Linked DNA regions of Homo sapiens. The protein of the gene in region 2 interacts with the protein of the main gene of each other region in a pairwise test. Each region holds a gene or a part of one and is shown on either strand. Other genes may lie near its edges. The genes, in order: CLDN19, PLEKHB2, STAM2, TAX1BP1, ZFAND2A, POGZ and EMP1.

The links.
Region 1: the proteins of PLEKHB2 (region 2) and CLDN19 interact in binary tests that used the Homo sapiens proteins (3 or more experiments, as listed by UniProt).
Region 3: the proteins of PLEKHB2 (region 2) and STAM2 interact in binary tests that used the Homo sapiens proteins (3 or more experiments, as listed by UniProt).
Region 4: the proteins of PLEKHB2 (region 2) and TAX1BP1 interact in binary tests that used the Homo sapiens proteins (3 or more experiments, as listed by UniProt).
Region 5: the proteins of PLEKHB2 (region 2) and ZFAND2A interact in binary tests that used the Homo sapiens proteins (3 or more experiments, as listed by UniProt).
Region 6: the proteins of PLEKHB2 (region 2) and POGZ interact in binary tests that used the Homo sapiens proteins (3 or more experiments, as listed by UniProt).
Region 7: the proteins of PLEKHB2 (region 2) and EMP1 interact in binary tests that used the Homo sapiens proteins (3 or more experiments, as listed by UniProt).

The regions. Positions count from the first base shown.
Region 1 is NC_000001.11:42,734,915-42,737,236, reverse strand, and holds part of CLDN19 (claudin-19), read left to right. Parts: intron 1-1,206; coding exon 1,207-1,359; coding exon of another isoform or gene 1,360-1,475; exon of another isoform or gene 1,476-2,102; coding exon 2,103-2,151; 3' UTR 2,152-2,322. UniProt on the Homo sapiens protein: Forms paracellular channels: coassembles with CLDN16 into tight junction strands with cation-selective channels through the strands, conveying epithelial permeability in a process known as paracellular tight junction permeability.
Region 2 is NC_000002.12:131,129,336-131,132,835, forward strand, and holds part of PLEKHB2 (pleckstrin homology domain-containing family B member 2), read left to right. Parts: intron 1-1,385; coding exon 1,386-1,425; intron 1,426-3,500. UniProt on the Homo sapiens protein: Involved in retrograde transport of recycling endosomes.
Region 3 is NC_000002.12:152,116,764-152,120,263, reverse strand, and holds the end of STAM2 (signal transducing adapter molecule 2), read left to right. Parts: 3' UTR 1-3,463; downstream 3,464-3,500.
Region 4 is NC_000007.14:27,746,662-27,750,161, forward strand, and holds part of TAX1BP1 (tax1-binding protein 1), read left to right. Parts: intron 1-1,856; 5' UTR 1,857-1,863; coding exon 1,864-2,025; intron 2,026-3,500.
Region 5 is NC_000007.14:1,152,407-1,154,801, forward strand, and holds the end of ZFAND2A (AN1-type zinc finger protein 2A), read right to left. Parts: intron 836-2,395; exon of another isoform or gene 819-835; coding exon 663-818; 3' UTR 501-662; downstream 1-500.
Region 6 is NC_000001.11:151,449,495-151,452,994, forward strand, and holds part of POGZ (pogo transposable element with ZNF domain), read right to left. Parts: intron 1,455-3,500; exon of another isoform or gene 1,416-1,454; intron 1-1,415. UniProt on the Homo sapiens protein: Plays a role in mitotic cell cycle progression and is involved in kinetochore assembly and mitotic sister chromatid cohesion.
Region 7 is NC_000012.12:13,203,226-13,206,725, forward strand, and holds part of EMP1 (epithelial membrane protein 1), read left to right. Parts: intron 1-3,500.

The DNA.
Region 1 (2,322 bases), on a different chromosome or scaffold from region 2:
GGGAGCAGTGGAAAGCAGGCTGATATTCAGGAGATAACCAGGACTTGTAAGACTGTGGGCATGGGAACTGAAGGGGATGCTCTGCAAAGGGCCTGGGCCCACCTTGGCTCCTCCCTCACTTCTCAGCCTAGCCAGGAGCAGAGAATGGGACAGTCTTAACCCTAGACATCCCAATGGGCTTTGGGCCTTGGGGTGGAGAGAGGATGAGAAAAGATGTCTGGGCTTTTGCAATCGGGAGGGATGCCTGGAGGAGGCAGAGGTGTTGAGAGGCAAGGGGAGGGAGGAGATCTCAGGTACAAGGTTTGTTCCCTGGGTGGTGGCTGCAGCCACAAAGTCTGCCAAGCAAGGTCCAGCTCAGGCATGTCAGGATAGGACTCGGCCCCCGATCCCTTCAACAGTCCCCAATGCCACTTGGGCTGCCAGGCCCTGTGCTGGGTCCTGGGGACACTGATGGCTCTGTCTGCCCTCAAGGGGCTTCCCAGGGAGCCGGACAAGCAAGGGGCTGAGGCCTCCTGGAGAAAGCATGGTAGTGGAGTCGGCGCAAGGGGCGGGGTGAACACAGAGGATGTCAAGGAAAGACCCCACGAAGAGGTGGCATCTGAACTGGGCTCTGAAGGCAGAGAAGGAACAGGGGAGGCACAGGAGTGGTGGGCTGGGGGGCTTGGTGCCCCAGCTGGGGGTGCCTTGTGCAAAGGCACCAAGGCAGTGAGAACCAGGAGCAGGGCTGGCCTGGCCAGCAGGGTCTGGGTGTGGAGAGCCCAGAGTGCCAGGTGGAAGGGTCTGGCCTTCTCCAGAGGGCAGCGGGAGCAGTCTTGGCTGGGAGTTCTGTGGGCCAGAATGTGACTGGGAAAAAACATGGCAGGGATTGCCCCACTCCTCCCGTGCAGACCTCTCAGGCCCTCCCATGCCCCCTCCACTGGCCAGATCAGGAAATGAGCCCAAGGTTGCTCAGAGCAGGAGCTGGAGGCCCAGCCTCTAGCCTTCACGCCTACCCCAGGCCGGGTCACCCTGTGTGGTGTTGATATTCTGGGCTGGGGGGGAGGGAGAAAGGAAGAGCATTCACCTCAATTTATCTGGAGATATGGAAGAGGTTGTGAGGCTCCAGCCTCCAGCTCCACACACTCTGCCCTTCCTCTGCCAGGGCAGGGACTGGGAACAACCTGAGACGGCAGCCACACCTGATGCCACTCTCCCTACCCCTTGCAGGTATGAATTTGGCCCAGCCCTGTTCGTGGGCTGGGCCTCAGCTGGCCTGGCCGTGCTGGGCGGCTCCTTCCTCTGCTGCACATGCCCGGAGCCAGAGAGACCCAACAGCAGCCCACAGCCCTATCGGCCTGGACCCTCTGCTGCTGCCCGAGAGTACGTCTGAGCTCCGCCTGCCCTGGCCAGCCCCCCACCCAGTGGCCCCCTTGCCCAGCATCCAGCCAGCCTCGCAGCACCCTGGGCAGGGCCACTGGGGCATAGGATGGGCATAGGTGCTCTGAGCAGCTTGTCCTCAACACAAGCACCCACCCTGCAATCTGAGACCCAGATCCTCAGAGAGACACCAGAGGCAGGACCCAGCCCCCAGGCATACACACAGATGCAGGTCCAGGCACGGTCTTGTCTGCACAGCCTGGTGGGCACCAGCATGCATCCCTGGAGACAGGCCCTCAGGCACCAGCCCGGCTGTTTACTCACTGAAGAGCTGCTTGGGTGTCTGCTACGTGCTGGGCCCTAGAGATAGAGCAGTGGCCAAGACGTACCTTAGTACCCAGGTCCTTGGGGTGAGCAGAAACCTTCACCCTCCCCAGTCCCATGGGCTCCTCACAGCAACCCCACAAGGGCAGTGCCGGGATGCTGAACGTTCACACAAGGACAGGGAGGGTCTGAGTTTAGGTCTCAGGTTCTTCCAGTGCGCCCAGGGCTGGGGGCCACCTACACAGATGGTGAGGTCGGACCATGGCGCCCCTGCCCCCGGGAATGGGCCCCAGGCAGGGCTGCTGTGAGGGCCAAGGTCTGGCCACGCTGGCCAGTACCCATGTCCGGGCCTGAATGCACAGCCCCTGCCCCCGACCCCACAGCTCACTCCACTAACCAGCTCTCTCTCTTTTGACTTTCAGACCAGTTGTTAAATTGCCCGCCTCCGCCAAGGGCCCCCTGGGTGTGTAATGTCCAGTCCCCAGCCAGGCTCTGTCCCCTGCCATACCTAGACTGTGTGTTTCATATTTTTTTGGAAAGAGAAGTGAACATCCAGCCCCAATCATGGTATCATTCGGTCTGTCCTCAGCGTGGCTTGGACGGGGCCTGTGTCAGAGTGGTCAGTGCTGACCCCTGGGGCTC
Region 2 (3,500 bases):
AAAAAAAAAAAAAAAAAGAAAGCCAGAACACTTGAAAATAAGTGAATGAATCTTTCAACTCAGGGAGATAGTAAAATGAGAATAAAACATAAAAGGAATTGATGAAGATAAGAGGGATAGGGTCAGTAAGAAAAGTAAGGGGTAAAGGAGTGAGGGAGTGCACAAGAGAACACTATTTTGTTTTTTGAGATGGAGTTTCGCTCTTGTTGCCCAGGCTAGAGTGCAATGGTATAATCTCCGCTCATTGCAACCTCTGCCTCCCGGGTTCAAGCACTTCTCCTGCCTCAGCCTCTGGAGTAGCTGAAATTACAGGCATGTGCCACCACGCCCAGCTAATTTTGTGTTTTTAGTAGAAGCTTGGTTTTACCATGTTGGCCAGGCTGGTCTCGAACTCCTGACCTCAGGTGATCACCTACCTTGACCTCCCGAAGTGCTGGGATTACAGGCGTGAGAGACTGCTTTTTGCCTATGAATTAAGAAAGCTCTTGTGATACTTAAGGTTCAGATATCTAGTTTTTTTTGACAATATAGTGTAAAGTTGGTAGGTATAGAGATTGTTAGAATCGTTTTGCAGGGCATTTTGGCAATACCTGCTGAAATAAATTATGTTTTTATCCTTTGATGTGGTATTTTCAGTCTTTGGAATTTGCCCTGTGGAGATGTTTACATAAGAGTGTAAGGGTAATAGGGATGTTAATAGCATTCTTTTCTTCTTTTTTTTTTCTTGAGATAGAGCCCCTCTCTCTCATCCAGGCTAGAGTGCAGTGGTGTGATCTTGGCTCACTACAGCCTCGACCTCCCAGGCGCAAGCTATTCTCCCACCTCAGCCTCCCAAGTAGCTTGGACTGCAGGCATGCGCCACCATGCCCGGCTAATGTTTATATTTTTTGTAGAGCTAGGATTTCACTATGTTGCCCAGGCTGGTCTTGAACTCCTGGGCTCAAGTGATCCCCCTGCCTTGGCCTCCCATAGTGCTGGGATTACAGGTATGAGGCACTACATCCGGTCCCCAGCATTCTTTTTAATGTTGAAAAATTGCTAATCTAAATTTTTTACTCATATCGTGGAATATTATATAGCTGGTAAAAAGGAAGTAGATCTGTGTGTATGCCATGAACTGACAAAGCAAGTGGCAGTACATTTCACATTTATTAAAAAGTAAAGTAAAAAGTATAGTATAGATTATGTTTTAAATATTACATATCTATTATGTATGTAATTTTTAAAAATATATATTCCTAGTGCATGTCTCAAGTGGTTTGGGGCAAAGCCTGAAGACTTGTTTTTTAAACAGATCTTTTCAGGAATTCTGATGCCAGCCCAGGTTTCAGAATCATTGCAATGTTGGATTGCCTTAAATAAAGTACCCTTTTTCTTTTCTCCAGGGCCTGGAAATTTACACTCCAAGATTCTAGGACAAACACAGTAAGTTGCTAATGGCAATCACCAATAATTTTTTTTTTTTTTGACAAGGTGTCACTCTCACTCAGGCTTGAGTGCAGTGGTGCTGTCTCACCTCACTGCAGCCTCTACCTCTCGGGCTCAAGTAGTCCTCCCACCTCAGCCTCCCCTTCCCAGTAGCTGGGACTATAGGCCCATGCTACCACGCCCAGCTTATTTGAAAAAATTTTTTTGTAGAGACGAAGTCTCACTATATTACCCATGCTGGTATCCAACTTCTGGGCTCAAGTGATCCTCCCACTTTCGCCTCCCAAAGTGCTGGGATTACAGGCATGAGCCACCACACCCGGCCACCAGTAATGTTTTCACATGGTCTTGTGTAACAATTGGAGAATGGGGAAAACGGGTTTCTTGACCATCTGGCCACGAATGGGCAGGTAGTGCTGGGCAGGGCGCCTTTTGCCAACAGTGAGCAAGCTGGGTTTGTCAAATGTTTGGCAGGAGGCACCCTGCTCTTACAGGCATGCTTGTTCCAGTGTTGCTTTCTAGAAATGCTTGTATTTCTCAAAGTTCTGCAACACTTTGAATTGTGCTGTGGTTTGCAGTAAAGGCTTAGAAAGAACTGCAGGATCCTTTTCACGCATGGGAGCTCAGCCTGTGAAACAAACATTTTTGTGACTTGTACTTGTCTCTCGTCCTGTTTCTGGCCTTAGGAGGTCACTGAGACAGTGAACCTCATTTGTAGAGCCTCGTAATGCTGTCTTTATCTGTCAGTGATCAAGGGAGTGTGTTACTCTGGTCAGAGTTTTCATTCTTTAGATGGGATTTTTCTCTCCTTTATTAATCTGTAAGAAAAGAAGAAGGTGGATCAAGCTTACAGAAGAATGTGTGCATGTGGGAGAAGAAAGTAAAAGGCTTAATATCCTAATAGCGTCAGTGTTCTCTTCCTTTGTTAGCACACAACAACTTCATTCTAAGCTTACTCTACAGCCGCAGTTACCTTTTCTTCATGAAAATCCCCCTTTTTTTTTTTTTTTTTGGGTAAAATTAGCATTAACAATCCATACAGTTAAGGGCAAGCTCCCCAAATGATTCTTTGTGTGGATTTTTTTTTTTTGAGACAGTCTCACTCTGTCGCCCAGGCCAGAGTGCAGTGGAGCGATCTCGGCTCACTGCAACCTCTGCCTCCTGGGTTCAAGCAGTTCTCCTGCCTCAGAATCCTGAATAGCTGGGATTACAGGCACGTGCCACCACGCCCAGCTAATTTTTGTATTTTTAGTAGAGATGGGGTTTCATCATGTTGGTCAGGCTGGTCTCAACTCCTGACCTAGTGATCTGCCTGCCTTGGCCTCCCAAAATGCTGTGATTAAAGGCATGAGCCATTGCGCCTGGCCACTTTTTCTTTTTTTTTAAAGAGCTAACATGTTTTTCTTTAAATTATACTGGGGAGTAATTTAATGAAGAATTTTGTTTTTTAAGGTAAAAAACAGACTTATGTATAGGACATATCTCTTGATACATTTTAGATTGTAGAGTTTTTATTTGTGAATAAAGGACTGTTGAGAGTGCTGTAACATCTTTATTTTTTTGGAGACAGTCTCGCCTTGTTGCCTGGGCTGGAGTGCAGTGACTTGATCTTGGCTCACTGCAGTCTCGAGCTCCTGGGCTCGAGTGATCCTTGAGACTTAGCCTTCTGAGTAGCTGGGGCCATAAGCACCATGCCCAGTTAATTTCTTGTTTTTTGTAGAGATGAGCTCTCCCTCTGTTGCCTAGGCTGGCCTTGGAACTCCTGGGCTCTAGTGATCCTCTCACCCAGCCTCCCCAAAGTGTTGGGATTATAGGTGTGAGCCATTGCACCTGGCCTGATGTAACATCTTTTAAAAGGCATTGGGTAACAGTGGGGCCTCTGAGTGCCTTCCTGGCTGTGAGAGCTGTAGTCCTGTTAGGGGCCGAGTGAGGACCACTTTGCTCTTGCATTTAGAGGATACCAGAATAGGGGTGGGGGCCCCCACTGGACTGGGGGAGTTTTTCCTGTTTTGCAGAGAGCTATGTATCTTTTTGTTTTTTTAAATTTTTAATTTGCTAAATAAAAGGGACAA
Region 3 (3,500 bases), about 21 Mb from region 2:
GAGATACTTATGACAAACTCGCTCTGTCACCCAGGCTGGAGTGCAGTAGCATGATCGACAGAGTGAGTTTGTCAAAAGTATCTCATACTTATAAACAGTATGAGATAGGAGGATTAAAATATTATTTTAAAGAAACCACTGTTTCCCCCTAAAATGTCATAAGAGCACTGAAGAACTTGAAATATTTTTTTCAGAGTTTCTCACACACTTTAAAAGTCTAACTTTTTTGTGTGTAAGCATTTAGCTTGCCAGCATATTTCTTTTTGGCTCCTTAAATTGCGGTTGTGTTTGCAGTATTGTCACTTTTGCTCTCACTGTTATGTTGAATAATAATTAGCATATAATTGTCTACAGAAGCAAGAGCAATCTGGAAGGAACAAAAATGTTTTCTGTGATTAACAGTGAAGACCTTGTAAATGCAGATGTGTGATAAAGCATTTAGTCAGTCCCCCAAACAGTCATGCCAACTGTGAAGGAATGTCCCACAAAACATTTCCATTCCCTGAGGAAAAACATTTTCTTTCCTACATGTATCTCTGGTATTTAGAATTGTCACTAATAACCTTTTCAAGTGATTTTGGCTATTCTCTAATGAAGATATGGTCCATTTGTTTTTCTTCCTGCAATGTGGTGTGCAGAGATGCTGCATATCCTTTTTATGGGATTGCGTGTGAATTTGAACCATGAGACATTCCTAATAATTTGTTGTGAGATATACCAAGCATGGATGATAAGTGTGTTTTTAGTGGTGTGTTGTTTTTTTAAAGAGGTGATTCAAGTACCGTTGCTAAGCTGTCAACATACCAAGCTGTTGAAAAAATTGACCATTTCTTTCAGAAGTAATTCTCAGCCTGTGGAATAATAGCAGGTGAAGACTTCATAGAAGGCGACAGATTGATAGGGAGGCTATTGAAGCAGTTTTTCTGAAGCCTGCATTTTGAGTTAGTTTATAGTGCTAATAGATTCTATATAACTGTGAGAGTTTGGTAGTAAACCAGTAGGGATTGTTTTCTCTCCTAAAAATTTGCACACTACTTCATTGTCTACCAACTTTTTACATATTGGAAAATAGAAATTGCAAATACATACATGTATGGAAACATATTCAGATTGGGAAAAACAATGGACATTAGTTTTTAAAAAGTTACGTGGAAGCAAGATTTCTATATTTGTTTTTTTAAAGGAAGCAGTCATTCTTTCTACTAAATCCATTTCAAGCTAGTTCTCTGAAAATTTTGCCATTTATCTACAGAAATTTGATTATAAATATGTTCCTTTTTCAAAGAAACTTTATTCTAGAACAAAATAGTCTATATGGTACTTGATCTACATTTAAGTGGAAAAATTAGCAGTATTTGAAAGCTCAGTTTATGTCATTGTCTTAACTTCAGATACAAATAACTGAACAGAAAGTTTTAACCTTTAATATCTCATGTTCTGTTTTTTATTCAGTATTTTCCTTTATGTTAATTCAATTATATACTTCTGAATGGCACCTTACTTTTTGGAAACAAATCTTCTGTTATTTACAAAATAATAATTTTTAAAAAACATTTAAAAAAAATCCAAAGCTGCTCTCGATAATAGTCAACATTTGCATATATATGGAATTTCTTACTTTTTTTCTCCCAAACTCTATTTAATAAACTTATTTTAATGTTTGTGTATTTCATGTATAATTGTGATCTCAATTATAAAAGTTTAATTCAGCATGTCTTTGAGCCAATATAATTACTGCACACCCACTAAATTGGGATCAGCCATTATAAATAATGTAGTTTTAGAATAATAAAACATGACACATATATATATATATAAATATATAGTATATATTGGCACATCGGTGAAAGTTTATATGTGCAGAAGTTTTTTTCTTTCTCAAGTTAAAAATTATTTTTTGCCATATGTAATTTTGTGTTGCAGGCTGTCGAGAGATAAAAATGATTTTAAATCTGTGTACTGATGATTCTTTCGGTGTTAAGAAACACAGGGTTGTGTACTTCCCTTTTTATGGGCTTATGGATTCTATTTATATTAAGACCTGTTTATAATTGTTTTCTGCCAAAGGGAATTGTCTAACTTCAGATTTCTACATTGGGTTCATACTTACTGTTTTATATCAGAAATAAAAAAATAGCTTCTGCTTTTTCATATGAAATCTTGGTACATCAGAAAGAATTCCTGAAAATTTATAATAGAATGAATTTTATTAATGCAGAAAAATACCCCAGGGTGTTAAAATATATGAAGTGTGGGATATATTCTTATAGTTTGTAAAATGTAGTCAACCAATACTGTCTTCTAATTTGGTAATTTATTTATAAAATTACTTAAACATTAGGTAATTATATTTGTTAGGATTTGAAATTATTTGTAGTTAAATTGTCATGCTGTTTGAAATAATTGATACTTGTCTACGTAATACATTTTACTGTATGTTTTGAAGATGGTTATAATTTCACTTTCAAAATTTAAAAAATCAATTTTAAATGTTTTAAAAACATATAGCTTAGGGATTTTTTTTAAAAAGGTTTTCTTAGTAAAAACATAAATTTAAAAGCCCCTGAGTTCTAGGAGAGGGCTTATTGAATTGCTATAAGAAAGCTGGAGTTACTTTGATAAGTAATAAATTATAAATAGCACTGATCTATAATGCTTTATTTCTATCGGAAGGTACTTTTTCTTCTTTCATCATCAGTTTTAGCCAGTTAGTAAATGGGAATACTCAGTTTTAGGGATTTGATTTTTGTTTGGTTTAATTTTCTTTCAAAAATTAAAAGTATATTTCTAAAAGTTTTCCCCAGAGGCCAGATACAGTGGCTCATGCCTATAATCCCAGCACTTTGGGAGCCTGAGATAGGAGTATTGCTTGAGGCTAGGAGTTTGAGACCAACCTGGCAACATGGCAAGACCCTATCTCTACAAAAATTTTAAAACTTAGCCAGGTGTGGTAGTGCACCTGTAGTCCCAGCTAGTCAGTAGGCTGAGGTGGGAGTATTGCTTGAGGCTGCAGTGAGGTGTGATCACGCCACTGCACTCCGGCCTGACAGAATGAGATCCTGTCTCAAAAAGAAAATTCCCCAGAAGAAGAATTCTAATTTTATCAAGCTGAATTAAAGTTTGAGAGTCTTTTTTTTAAAATCTTACTGTGTCAAAAGAGGCATTATGTTGCTTGTGTGATATAGTGAATAGTGTCCCTCCAAATTTCATGTACACCTGGAATGTCACAATGTGACTTAACAGTAGCCACCCCTCACCCCCGCCCTTATCTGTGGTGGATACATTTGCAAGATCCCCAGTGGATGCCTGAAACCGCAGATAGTACTGAACCTTATATATACTGTTTGTTTTCCTATGCATACATATCCCTATGATAAAGTTTATGAATTTGGCACTTAACAGCAGAACTAATAAGATGAAAGAGTTGTAACAATATACTCTAATAAAAGTTATTTAAAATGTATGTATTGTTATCTGTAATTTTGCATTTAATATTTTTG
Region 4 (3,500 bases), on a different chromosome or scaffold from region 2:
TGGTAGCAAAGTCCCTTTATTAGTGCAGAGGTAAAGGGGGATTGCTACTGAATATACTCTTTATCTTGGAATGCTTGCAAACCTCAGGTAGGGAGAGGCTGACAACTAGCCTGATACTCTACAGTGGTTTCCAGGTTCATGATTGACAGTCTCTTTTTGGGATATCCATTATATTCAGTAAAGCAGGACTTTGGCCATAACAGAAGCAGAGGGGACACAAGAAGAAAGTTGATATTTTTTAAAGTGCTTATTATTACAAAACTTTAAAAATTTGCCTTAGTATTTCAAACAGGTCAGCAAAAGAAACAGTTGTAAAAGCACACTGTTTTAGATCTTAGCAATAAGCCTTCTTACTAATGGCTAAAATATGAGTAGAGCCTTACTGCTGTGCTTGCTCTGTAGAAACTTCATTGATTTGTGAAGTAAATTAGATTAATTTGGTTAGCAAAAACCTTGCCCCAGTTTTCCCCATTATTACAGAGATGCCTGTTTTAATGACTCAAGCAAGTGCAGTCAGGACAGTCATAGTTTCTTATGTGTATTGTAGAATTAGTGATTGTACGGAGCCTGTGACAAACTCTACAGATTGCTTTTTTGGGTAAATCCTCATTTGTTTCTGTTTTCTCAAAAGTAGAGCACAAAATAGGGAAAACATTTGGATCTTGCAGTTTTTATAATCTGCTTTCACCATTCATCTGCTATCCAGTGCTTGGTGTTTACTAAGCCAGTGAGCGTTCATGAATCTCTAAGAGATTTTCAACAGTGTGTATTTTATTAACACTACACTTTTATTTTTATTTTTAAATATAAGTTTATTTTAATCAGTAAACATGTGGAAAGGGTACGTGAATACTAGAAGTTGAGGTAGGATCATTGATTGGACCTATGATGAAATGATAGGTTTGTTATAGGTGGAGAAGAACAAATAGGCTGAGCCATTTCAAGTAGACCAGCTAAGATTTTACATGGTTTGAGAGATTTGAACAAGCTTGTAACAGAAGCCCAAGAAGACAGGCTGGGTCTGGGATCTGTGGAAATGAGTGAGAGGTAGAAGTTGTTGGATAGTGGTTCTCTTTTCTGGTTGCATACAGGATTGAGATTACTTGGGGCGATGTAGGGGCAGGGCTATGTATATTCGTATACACACCCACAGACACACATGCACACACTCCCAGGCCCCAATCCCAGAAAGTTGTTGTCATCTATTTTTTTTTTTTAAAGGCCCCTAATGATTCTAATGTGTAACCAGGGTTGAGAAATGCTGGTCCAGGGGATTAGAAGGGCAGGAATGTAGGCACAGAGATGTTAGCGTCAGGTTTAGTTATAGGACCCCAAAACCTAGGGAGAGGGGAAGAGATGAATGGGATGGGCTAGGTTAGGGAGGAGAATGATGAAGCCCAAGGGTTCTACATAGGAAGGAAATGTTAATTGACCCATAGCCAGTAAAATACTGACTTTTAACTGTTCTTGTTTCTGTTTCTTAGTGTTTGTTACTAGGAGCCAGCAGGTTTATATTGGCAGCGTGTGCACAAAAACACCTCTGGTTCATTTGCTTTTGATTTAAATAGAAGCAGAGGGCTAGGCTTTCCAGGAGAGTTAATTTTTGGTTTTGGTTTTTTAACTTTTAAATGCCCATATAACTTTCTGAGCCAAATGGGTTTTAGTTATTTTTCCAGTTTGTCTGTATTTTTATATTTAATCAATTTTTAAGAAGTTCCAGTATTTACAAAGTATATATTTTCTTAATTATGACATGCAAATATTCATGAAACTTATATTAAATATTATGTATTTTCTGAAGGCATAAGTTTATTCTTAGTTGGTATAATTTAACTTGTATGAATTACTTGTTTCAGATTCACAATGACATCCTTTCAAGAAGTCCCATTGCAGACTTCCAACTTTGCCCATGTCATCTTTCAAAATGTGGCCAAGAGTTACCTTCCTAATGCACACCTGGAATGTCATTACACCTTAACTCCATATATTCATCCACATCCAAAAGATTGGGTTGGTATATTCAAGGTAAGAAAGCTTTCTGAATATGTTCTCCATGTAAACACTTAAAATTTTCTTTTAAAACAGATTGATAAGTAGCTTTTACTTGCCTTAACTCTGCATTAAGACTCATTTTTGTAAACATCACCATGAAATATTTAACAGTGGGGAGTAGATAAAATGGATGTTGGGAACTCCATTTCACCAGATTTTCCTCTCCCTGATCAGAAAGTTTACCTTCACTTAAGGACTTGTGAAAATTTTTTCAGAATCTTCTTTTCCTATTTTCTCCATTCATTACCTGCAATAAAAAAAGATCTTTTTCTTTGGGTTCTTATATTATTTACCATTTTTTCCAGTCATTTGAAATTAATTTTATACAGCTTGACAGCCATGTTATTATCCCTTCTACTGTCCTGCATGGCTTAAATATTGCTCAGATTGTATTACACAGTTTTAAGAGTATTCTGTTTGTATTACACAGTTTTAAAGTATTCTGTTTAACATGACTGAATAGTAAACTCTTTGATGGCAGGAGTTCTAGTTCTTATATTTTACCAGTGATTTTGTATAATACTTTCTTGAAAATGAAGGTGATCATTACAGTGGTACACCTCACTGTGCAGGACTTTTTCTGGCAATTTTAACTCTTCAAAATGTAGTGGAAAACCAAAACATAAGAATGTCCTCTGAGCAGTCAAAATAATGTCACGAATGTCCAAACAGTAAAACACATTCACTTTTCTCCTGTGTTATTCTGTAGTCTTCCTCAGAATCAGTTTGTTTTATTTTAGTTAAGATTTTTATGGGCTTGAAATTTTGATTGTCTAATCTGTATAAAGTTAAACAACAAGGAAGAAAGAAATGAATAGCTGCTAGAAATTAGGCACATTGAAAGTGTCTAGAAGTAAAAGTCCAGCCTGACGGGAAGGCAGAAAAACATTTGGACAAAACAATTTTGGCATTTAATGACTTAGTTCCTTTCTTTGAATTCCTCATTTCTTGATGTTTCTGAATACAACACAATAGTTATTTACTGTTTACTTTTTGTGTCAGTTTTTTAGGCTTGTCAAATCCCAAAATGGAGAAACATTCATTGTAACAATTTTATGAAATTAGGAGTAGTTTTTAAATTTTATTTCTTATTTTTTGAGACAGGGTCTTATTCTATCACTCAGGCTGGAGTGCAGTGGTGGGATAGTGGCTTACTGCAACCTGACCTCCTGGGCTCAAGTGATCCTTTCCCCGCAGCCTTCCAAATAGCTGGGATTATAGACACAACACCACGCCTGGCTAATTTTTAAAATTTTTTGTAGAGACAGGGTCTCACTATGTTGCCTAGGCTGGTTTTAACTTCCTAGGCTTAAGTGATCCTCCTGTCCCAGCCTCCCAAAGTGCTGGGATTACAGGTGTGAGCCACCGCACCTGGCCTCAGTAGTAGTTTCGATTTTATGGGAGATACTGGTATCAAGTTAAAGATACTGATTGAGAACTGATGTTTT
Region 5 (2,395 bases), on a different chromosome or scaffold from region 2:
TTCCTGCAGGTAAGCAACTACCACTGGCCTGGCCCAGGGATGGACGCCAGACACCACCAGGTGCAACAGTTGAGGCAAATACAGATGCTTCTCGATTTGACAAACATTAGCATTACGAGTTGAATCATGTCCCCACAAGACATGCTGGAGCCCTAGACTCGGGACCTCAGAGTGTGACCTTCTGTGGACACAGGGTCTTTTCAGAGGTCACGACTGTGGGATCACATGACCAGCATCCTTACAAAAAGGGGAAGTCGGGACACACACAGAATGCCATGTGAAGATGAAGGTGGAGACGGGGGTTGTGCATTGACGAGCCCCGAGATGCTGGGGAGACGCAGCCGATGCTCCCCGCAGCCCTCAGAAGGGGCTGGCCCTGCCGACATCCTGCGCCTGGACCTCCAGCCCCCAGAACTGTGAAAGAACCGATTTCTATGGTTTGAGCCACCCAGTTTTTAGTACTTGGTGACGGCAGCAGTGGGCAATGAGAACAACTAGAATCAACTTCAGCATTCAATTTTATTATAGTCCCATCTCCCTCAACAAACAAGATCAGCAGCCAGTGTGGGATGGTGCTCAATGGGGCTCCACTTCCCACTAGAGTGTAAGCTGCTTCCACGCATGCTACTGCGTGCTCCGAGCCATCGCAGCGGAGTCTCTTCTCACCCAGCTTTGATGGTGGGGCGACTCCCGTGTCTGCAGCTGTGGTCCAAAGGGTGTCTGTGCTGGATACAGAAGTTGCCGTGACATTGGGCACATACCATCTGCAGCATCTCTTTCTTCTTGCAGCCCTCTTTTGAGCAACGGTATGTAAAAATCTAAGAGAGCAAAGTGACTTCAACAAGCAATTCTTTTTTTGGAGACAGGGTCTCGCTCTGTTGCCCAGGCTGGAGTGCAGTGGCTTGATCTTGGCTCACTGCAACCTCTGCCTCCTGGACTCAAGTGATTCTCCTGCTTCAGCCTAGTACCTGGTACTACAGGCACACACCGCCACGTCCAGCTAATTTTGTCTATTTTCACAGAGATGGGGTCTTGCCATGCTGCCCAGGCTGGTCTCAAACTCAGCCTCAGGTGATCCTCCCGCCTTGGCCTCCCAAAGTGCTAAGATTACCTGTGTGAGCCACTGTGCTGGCCTTAAATTCTTTAACAGCCTCCGGTAAGAACATTCCCATTTAAACTGGACACAGTTCCTGTCTGCACAGAGTACAGATGCAAAGTTTCATTTGACCATCTCAGTGCAGGTAAGAAGAACATGGGGCTGGACCCAGTGGCTCACGCCTGTCATCCCAGCACTTTGGGAAGCCAAGATGGGTGGATTGCCTGAGCTCAGGAGTTCGAGACAAGCTTGGGCAACATGGTGAAACCCCATCTCCACTAAAATATAAAAGATTAGCCAGGCATGGTGGCGTGGTGCCTGTAATCCCAGCTACTTGGGAGGCTGAGGCAGGAGAATTGCTAGAGGAGGCAGAGGCGGCAGTGAGCTGAGATTGTGCCACTGCACTCCAGCCTGGGCGACAGAGCAAGAGTTCGTCCCTTTAAAAAGAAAGAAAAAAAAAAGCCGGTCAGCATTGAAGCTGGGGATTCCCGTGAAGATGGCCCGGAGGTGCTGCTGGGAGGACAACAGAGAGAGGCAGCCAGGAAGCAGGGAGCGGGAGGGAAGGAGGCCAAGCACAGATGACAGGCAAGCCCCACAGAGGCACTGGCTCCAGGAGCCCTGGGACAGTGGAGGTTGTCCCCATCAAGGGAATATCTATCATGTCCCAGTACCCACCGGTCATTTTTTTTTTTTTTTTTTTTGGTGCCAGGATGTAGGCAGCGATATAAAGTCCTAGGAGTCAGAACTCCAAGAGGGGAAGGCAGTGAGGAGAGTGGGGAGGGTTCCAGCAGCCGGGGGTGGCCCTCCGGCCAAGGCAGGCAGGCATGGCCATGCTGAGCGACCATGCAGGAGGGACCCGTGCAGGGATGCAGGCAGAACACAGGGCGTGCCCACCAAAAGGACAGGAGCACAGCGGGCCAGGAGCAGCCGGGAGGGCATTCCTGTGTGGGGGCCTTGGGGCAGTGCTGGGTGAGCCCCCAGCAAGGGAAGCTGTGTCATGTGGAAGAAGCGGGTGTGCCAGAGAGCTGTGATGTCTCAGAGGCTTAAGAGACCTCCAGAGGCTGAGGGTCCCAGGGCACAGCCACAGCAGGGAGAGCTAGACAGGGCCAGAAAGTGGGGACCAGAGCAAGCTTCCGCACAGAGAATTTTGTGTGGCAGACTAAGGAACACTGATTTTATTCTCTATGTTTGAGACCAAAAGTTATTTGGTTTATGGTAATATAACTGTAAAGTATTGAACATCATATACTAAGATAGTTGGTAACCACCAACCAGGACCCATGACTAGGAACGGATTAA
Region 6 (3,500 bases), on a different chromosome or scaffold from region 2:
ACTGAAAATCACTGATCAAACTGAATACATGTTCTGAAAACGAGGGCAATTAAAAAAAAATCATCCCACATTCTATACATAAAGAACTATCATTTCTTTTTAAAAATATTTGTCCTCTCAGGCCAGGCACAGTGGCTCACGCCTGTAATCCCAGCACTTTGGGAGGCCGAGGTGGGCGGATCACGAGGTCAGGAGATCAAGACCATCCTGGCTAACACGGTGAAACCCCGTCTCTATTAAAAATACAAAAAATTAGCCAGGCGTGGTGGCGGCCGCCTGTAATCCCAGCTACTCGGGAGGCTGGGGCAGGAGAATGGCATGAACCTGGGAGATGCAGCTTGCAGACTGCACCACTGCACTCCAGCCTGGGAGACAGTGCGAGACTCCGTCTCAAAAACTCTGCAAGAGAGCAGAACAAGGTTCTTATGAATTATTCAAATGGTTATATCTTGTATGTTAAAAATTTTTTTATAAAATCCATATATATCTAGTCTGTTTCATCCTATAATCACCTACCTGTGAAACTTGATTTTTTTTTTTTTTTTTTTTTTTTTTGAGACGGAGTCTTGCTCTGTCACCCAGGCTGCAGCGCAGAGGCACGATCTCGGCTCACTGCAACCTCCGCCTACCGGGTACAAGTAATTCTCCTGTTTCAGTCTCCCAAGTAGCTGGGACTACAGGTGCCCACCACCACGGCTGGCTAGTTTTTGTATTTTTAGTAGAGATGGGTTTTCACCATATTGGCCAGGCTGGTCTTGAACTCCTGACCTCAGGTGATCCACCTGCCTTGGCCTCCCCAAAGTGCTGGGATTACAAGTATGAGCCACAGCACCCAGCCAGGAACTTGATTTTATCTTCATATTCATCTGACAACTTTTAGGTCACAGGGTCTTTGTCGCCTGGGCTGTAGTGCAGTGGCGCGATCTCAACTCACTGCAGCCTCGACCTCTTGGGCTCAAGCAATCCTCCCGTCTCAGCCTCCCAAGTAGCTGGGACTACAGGCATGTGCTACCACGCCTGGTTAATTTTTGTATTTTCTATAAAGCTAGAGTTTTGCCATATTGCCCAGGCTGGTCTTGAACTTCAGGACTCAAGTGATCTGCTTGCCTTGGTCTCCCAAAGTGCTGGGTTTTACAGGCATGAGCAGTCGTGCCCAGCCTCCCCAGTTCTAAATTTTTTCTTGTTGTGGCCCCTTTACAATTCCTCTACAGGTTACTTTTGCTACATATAAACTCTTCTAGCTTCTTCAACTTTCAAATCATTTTTGCAGAGGGCAATGCCTCAAAGTGACAAAATGGAAACCTATTTCTATGTTCTTCCTCAAAAATCTTATTTATGGTTGAACTTAAAAGTTACAGTAGCTCTGTATCTCAAAAGCCAAAGGTTATGATTGTAATATGTTTAAATAGAAAAACCTTAGCCAGGACCGGTGCAGTGGCTCACGCCTGTAATCCCAGCACTTTGGGAGGCCGAGGTGGGTGGATCACTTGAGGTCAGGAGTTCAAAACCAGCCTGGCCATGACCATGACCAGAGATGTGGTGAAACCCCGTCTCTACTAAAAAAAAAAAATACAAAAATTAGCCAGGTGTGGTGGCACACGCCTGTAATCCCAGCTATTCAGGAGGCTGAGACAGGAGACTGCCTCAAAGGGAAAGAAAAAAGAAAAACATTAACCAATAAACTACTGACTAATAATTCACATTAGTTATCAGCTGTTTTGTCTATGGCATTTTTTTGCAAACAAATACACAAGAAAAGCCAAAAACAATGTATGAAGTATTACTGACAATAATATTTAACCTGAATCAAATCAATTATTTATTTATTTTATTTTTTTTTAAATTTTTTGAGATGGAGTTTCACTCTTGTTGCCCAGGCTGGAGCCCAATGGCGCGATCTCAGCTCACTGCAACCTTCACCTCCTGGGTGCAAGCGATTCTCTTGCTTCAGCCTCTCAAGGAGCTGTAATTACAGGCATGCGTTACCATGCCTGGCTCATTTTGTACTTTTAGTAGAGATGGGGTTTCATCATGTTGGTCAGGCTGGTCTTCAACTCCTGACCTCAGGTGATCCACCCGCCTCAGTCTCCCAAAGTGCTGGGATTACAGGTGTGAGGCACCGCGCCTGGCCCAAATCCATTATTTAAATGTAACTTTGCGTTTACAAGAAATACAGCAATAAAAGAACAAATTAAGTATCACCACAAAGAAATAATGAGATAAATCCAGAAGGTGGGACATTCTAGAAGGAAATAATCAAATGCAGAATATGGAACATTCTATAAAACTAATAGAAGTCTCTTTAAAAATGTCAATGTTCGGCTGGACGCGGTGGCTCACGCCTGTAATCCCAGCACTTTGGGAGGCCAAGGCAGGTGGATCACCTCAGATCAGGAGTTCGAGACCAGCCTGACCAATATGATGAAACCCAGTCTCTACTAAAAATACAAAAATTAGCCGGGCGTGGTGGTGGGCACCTGTAATCCCAGCTACTCAGGAGGCTGAGACAGGAGAATTGCTTGAACCCGGGAGGTGGAGGTTGCAGTGAGCCGAGATGGTGCAATTGCACTCCAGCCTGGGCAACAAGAGCAAGACTCCGTCTCAAAAAAAAAAAAAAAAAAAAAAAAAGTCAATGTTGGCCGGGCATGGTGGCAGGCCAAGGTGGTAGGATTGCTTAAGGTCAGGAGTTCAAGACCAATCTGGGAAACAGAACCGATCCCTCTAAAAAATTTTTAAACAGAAAGGATAATCATATTATATTCATGTAGGAGAATGTATTTATTCCTAGGAAATGCACAAAATATTTAATAGAAATATCTTGAAAGTGACTTTCAAGGGGTTAAGCAAATACATAGATATTTGGCTTTTTTTTTTGAGACAGGGTGTCATTCTATCCCCCAGGCTGGAGTGCAGTGGCACAATCACGGCTTATTGCAGCCTCAACCTCCTGGGCTCAGGTGATCCTCCTGCCTCAGCCTCCCAAGTAGTTGTCACTACAGGTGGGCTATTTTGATATTTTCTTATAGATACTAGTATGCCAACTTTCAAAAAATATTTGGCATGGGCCAAAACATTAAAAATCATCCTGTCACCAGGCGCAGTGGCTCACGCCTGTAATCCCAGCACTTTGGGAGGCCAATGCAGGCGGATCACAAGGACAGGAGTTCGAGACCAGCCTGGCCAACACAGTGAAACCCCGTCTCTACTAAAAATACAAAAATTAGCCATGCGTGGTGGCTGGTGCCTGCAGTCCCAGCTACTCGGAAGGCTGAGGCAGGATAATCGCTTGAATTCGGGAGGCAGAGGTTGCAGTGAGCCAAGATTGTGCCACTGCACTCTAGTCTAGGCAACAGAGCGAGACTCTGTCTTAAAAAAAAAAAGTCACTCTGTCTAGGTGGTGGATAGTTTAAGTGTTCCTTGTAGAATTCTTTCACCCTTTTCTTTTTTCTTCTTTTTGTGATGGAGTCTCGCTCAGTTGCCCAGGCTGGAGTGATCTTGGC
Region 7 (3,500 bases), on a different chromosome or scaffold from region 2:
CCCTAGTTATTATCTTGGCAACCTCTCCCTTGAAGACATTCTGGCTGCCAGAACACTCGTTTGTCAAAAGCAGAAGGCAACTCACGCTTCCGTCCTCGCCCAGGGAACATCGCCTGATCCCTTGACCAGCTGCAGTCTGGGGGAGTAGGCTGGGCCCCAACTTCACAGCCCAGGTCTGGCCTCAGTCTTTGCAGATGTTGCCCAGATCCACCCCTCCCCTGGACACGAAGGAGGACAAGCGGAAATAAGAGAGAGAGGTTATTCTTCTTGGGAGCATTTGCAAAAACAATATTCATGCCACTTGTTTGCCTTTAGCATAATTGTTGGCCCTCAGGCTCTGCCAGAGAAGCATAAAGCCCATTTCCCCGGCCCGAGCCTCTCATTTTACACAGAGGAAGAGACCAACCAACCAGGAACTGTGTGGCCCCCACTCTGTGCCTGGCACAGGCCTTCAGCCCTCATGCTAATCCTGTGAGGTCTACAGGTCACAGTTCAGACATGGTGGAGCCAGGATTGGAGCTGAGAATCCCTGCTCTGTGCTACTTTGAACTCTGTGCCTGTAGGAGCCACTGACCAGAGAGGTTATGTGATTTTTCTAAAGTCAGAAGTTGGTCAGGGGCAGATTTATTATAAGAATCTGGTTCTCCAATAGGTTCTCTCTCTCTCATACAGTGTGCTTGCCCCACTCCCAACCCACACCTTGGCTCCTCACCCCTGACTATGTGAGACTCTGTGCTAGTCTACACAGCACCAGACCAACACGACTTGCTGTATAATAACCCCCATTTATAATAGCCTGCATTTGGAAGATGAAAAAAATAATTGTTTTCCCTGCAGCATGTAGGTCCCTGTTACTTTTGCTGCTTGATTGACGATGTTTCTCCTGGTTGTAAAAACTGCCCTGTATTTTCCAACATCAAGTCCTACCTGAGGTTCCTTCCTTCCACACCAAACATGAGCTATGCAGAGGCCGGAGGAAATGGCCCCTGAGAATCCTTTTTCTCCCCATGTTTCCCACGGAGAAATTAATCCCCTGCTTTCCCACCCCTGCATAAACACAATATTGAGAATGGAAAAGTACACTTGATATAAAACAACAATAACAGTGGCCAGAGAGGCTCATCCAAGGTCTCATCCACTCAGCCTGCCTTTAATCCCAGTCTTTTCCTCCTCCAGACACATCCTCTCCGGCTGCCCCCAGAAGGGAGTGCTTCCTTTTCTGCTTTTGTGTTACATGCGCATCCATTTTGCCAACCAAATGATCCTTCATGGGAAACAAACACATCAAAACCAAACCAACAAAAGCAAAATGCTCCCGACTTGCGCAGAGGACAGAAAGGCTTTCGTGCCACCCTGCGTGGTGTCTTAGGAAGGAGAGGCAGCTGCGGAGTTTCAGGTGTCACGCTGAGGAAGGTGGTGTGGGGTCGTCTGACTCATGGGGGTCAGTTGACCAGAAGCGGCTACGCCTCTCTCTCTCCTCGTGCTTTGGAGGAAGCACCACGTCTTTGGTCAGATGCTGTGAGAAAGCTTTCTCCAAAGTTTACAGTTATCCAGAAAGAGATCAGAATCTCACTGTCAGAAAAACACTGGCCAGCAAAAAGACAGGGAGTGTCTAGCAGTAATCTCAGGACTGTGTTATGACTTGACTGAGATTTTGAGATCTAAGGTGAAGGCCTCTGGTGAATCTTCTGATAACCTGGTAGTTCTGCTGTGAAGACAACCATGCTAGAAAGAGGAAGAATTAGTCTAGTCAGGTAATCTCACCGGCAGAATTAAAAGTCATGGTGGTCGTTGCAAAGAGCACACTCGGACGTATTGTCAGAAAAATCTTTCTAATCGGGGAAGGGATCCTGGTAGGTAGTGAGCTCTCCATGACTGGAGGAGGTTAAGCATGATTCAGATAGTTCTTTGGTCAGATTTGTAGATGACTTTCTTGAATTGAAAAGGAATTTTAAAGACCTCCCTCTTCAGTCCTGAGATTCTATAATTCAAAGAAGTAGAGAGAAAGATTAAATCTGCAGACAAACTAGTGTTTAGAAATTTAAGACATTTTCTTTGCATTCACTTATTTCCTCTTGAACAAAAGGCAACACACACATATATACCCTTGTATATTCAAATGCACTCAGGAAACAGTCACATATTTACATAGGTATTTATATAGAAATATATAACAAAGTTTGCATACAATAAGATGCTCAATACATAGTTGTAGTAAAGTATTAAGCAATTTCTGAAAAATAATAAAGGACTAAAGTCTATGTATGTTAAAAAAAAAAGGAAATATTTTCCCTCTATAATTCTGTGTTTATTATGAAGTCTTCAGTCATTTTGACATTGATTATTTTTCCATGGGGAAGAAAATATGGCCATCCTTAATTCATTTATTTGTTCATTGAACAGATATTTATTTGGTACCTGTCACAGGCAAGACTCTCCCTTCAGGGACTTAAAATCTTAGGGCTGTCATCAGTGGTTTTAATAAAAAGCTATGTGAGGGCAATAGAAGAAGAGAGAAAAGAAAACTGCTCCTAACCTATGGATCTGGGAAGGCTTTTTAGAAGAGGTAGGATTTTAGCTTGGTTGAAAAGAATTTGATAGACTGTCACTGAAAGAAGAATACAAAAGCAGAGCTTTTATTTTTGGAAATCCAAGTCCTGGGATTGCAAGGGCTGGCTTGAGGTGCGTGGAGCCTCTTTCCTGCTGATTGGTGGTGGTTAGAGGTGGGGGTTTGGAGGTTCTTGAGCAGGGGAGTGCCATGGTCAGATAACCCAGTAGCAGGGTAGAAGATATGTTAGAGGGGAGTTGTTCAGAGACAGGGTCATGGGTGAGGCTGATGCCATGGTCAGGCTAGGACCTGAACTGGACAGTAGCAATGGGAATAGAACATAAGGAAGGATGTGAGATAAGTAATGGAGGTAGAAACTCAGGGTAGGACTGTGATGTTTTGGGCAACAAAAGTGGAATGAGGGGAAGGGAAGATAGGACATTTGGCAGTGGTCATTACTGCTCTTTTCTCCCCAGAAAAATCCTGGCCTTTCTTAAGCTGCCAGGGAAATGCCAGCCAGATCCATACCCTGCTTCTCAGAAAGCTCTCTCGTGCCCTTTTGTAGAGAAGGTCTCCATGATGCCTTTCATTCTGGGAGAATCTCACCCACTCTCAAATGAATCATGGAAATTTGAGCCCTGAGGGCCTCCCCCAGTGTTTGCATCGTCTTCAGCTCCTGATTTCTGAGCATGCTCCCCTCCCACCCCTCAGCTAGGGCTAATTCTTCAGTGACTCAAGCCCCAGGATTTTGACCACTTCCTTCACTGGGGAAGTGGGTTTTTGGTTGCTCTATTCTATTGTGTTGCTCCCAGTTATTGTGTTTTAGGTCACTCTTAAAGAATTGCTGCTGCCGCCAGGCCCCATGGCAGTTCAGTGAACACACAGACTTCTGGACAGGAAGAAGTTATCTGACTCCTAGGTTAGCAATCAGGGAACCAAATTATGCACCTCT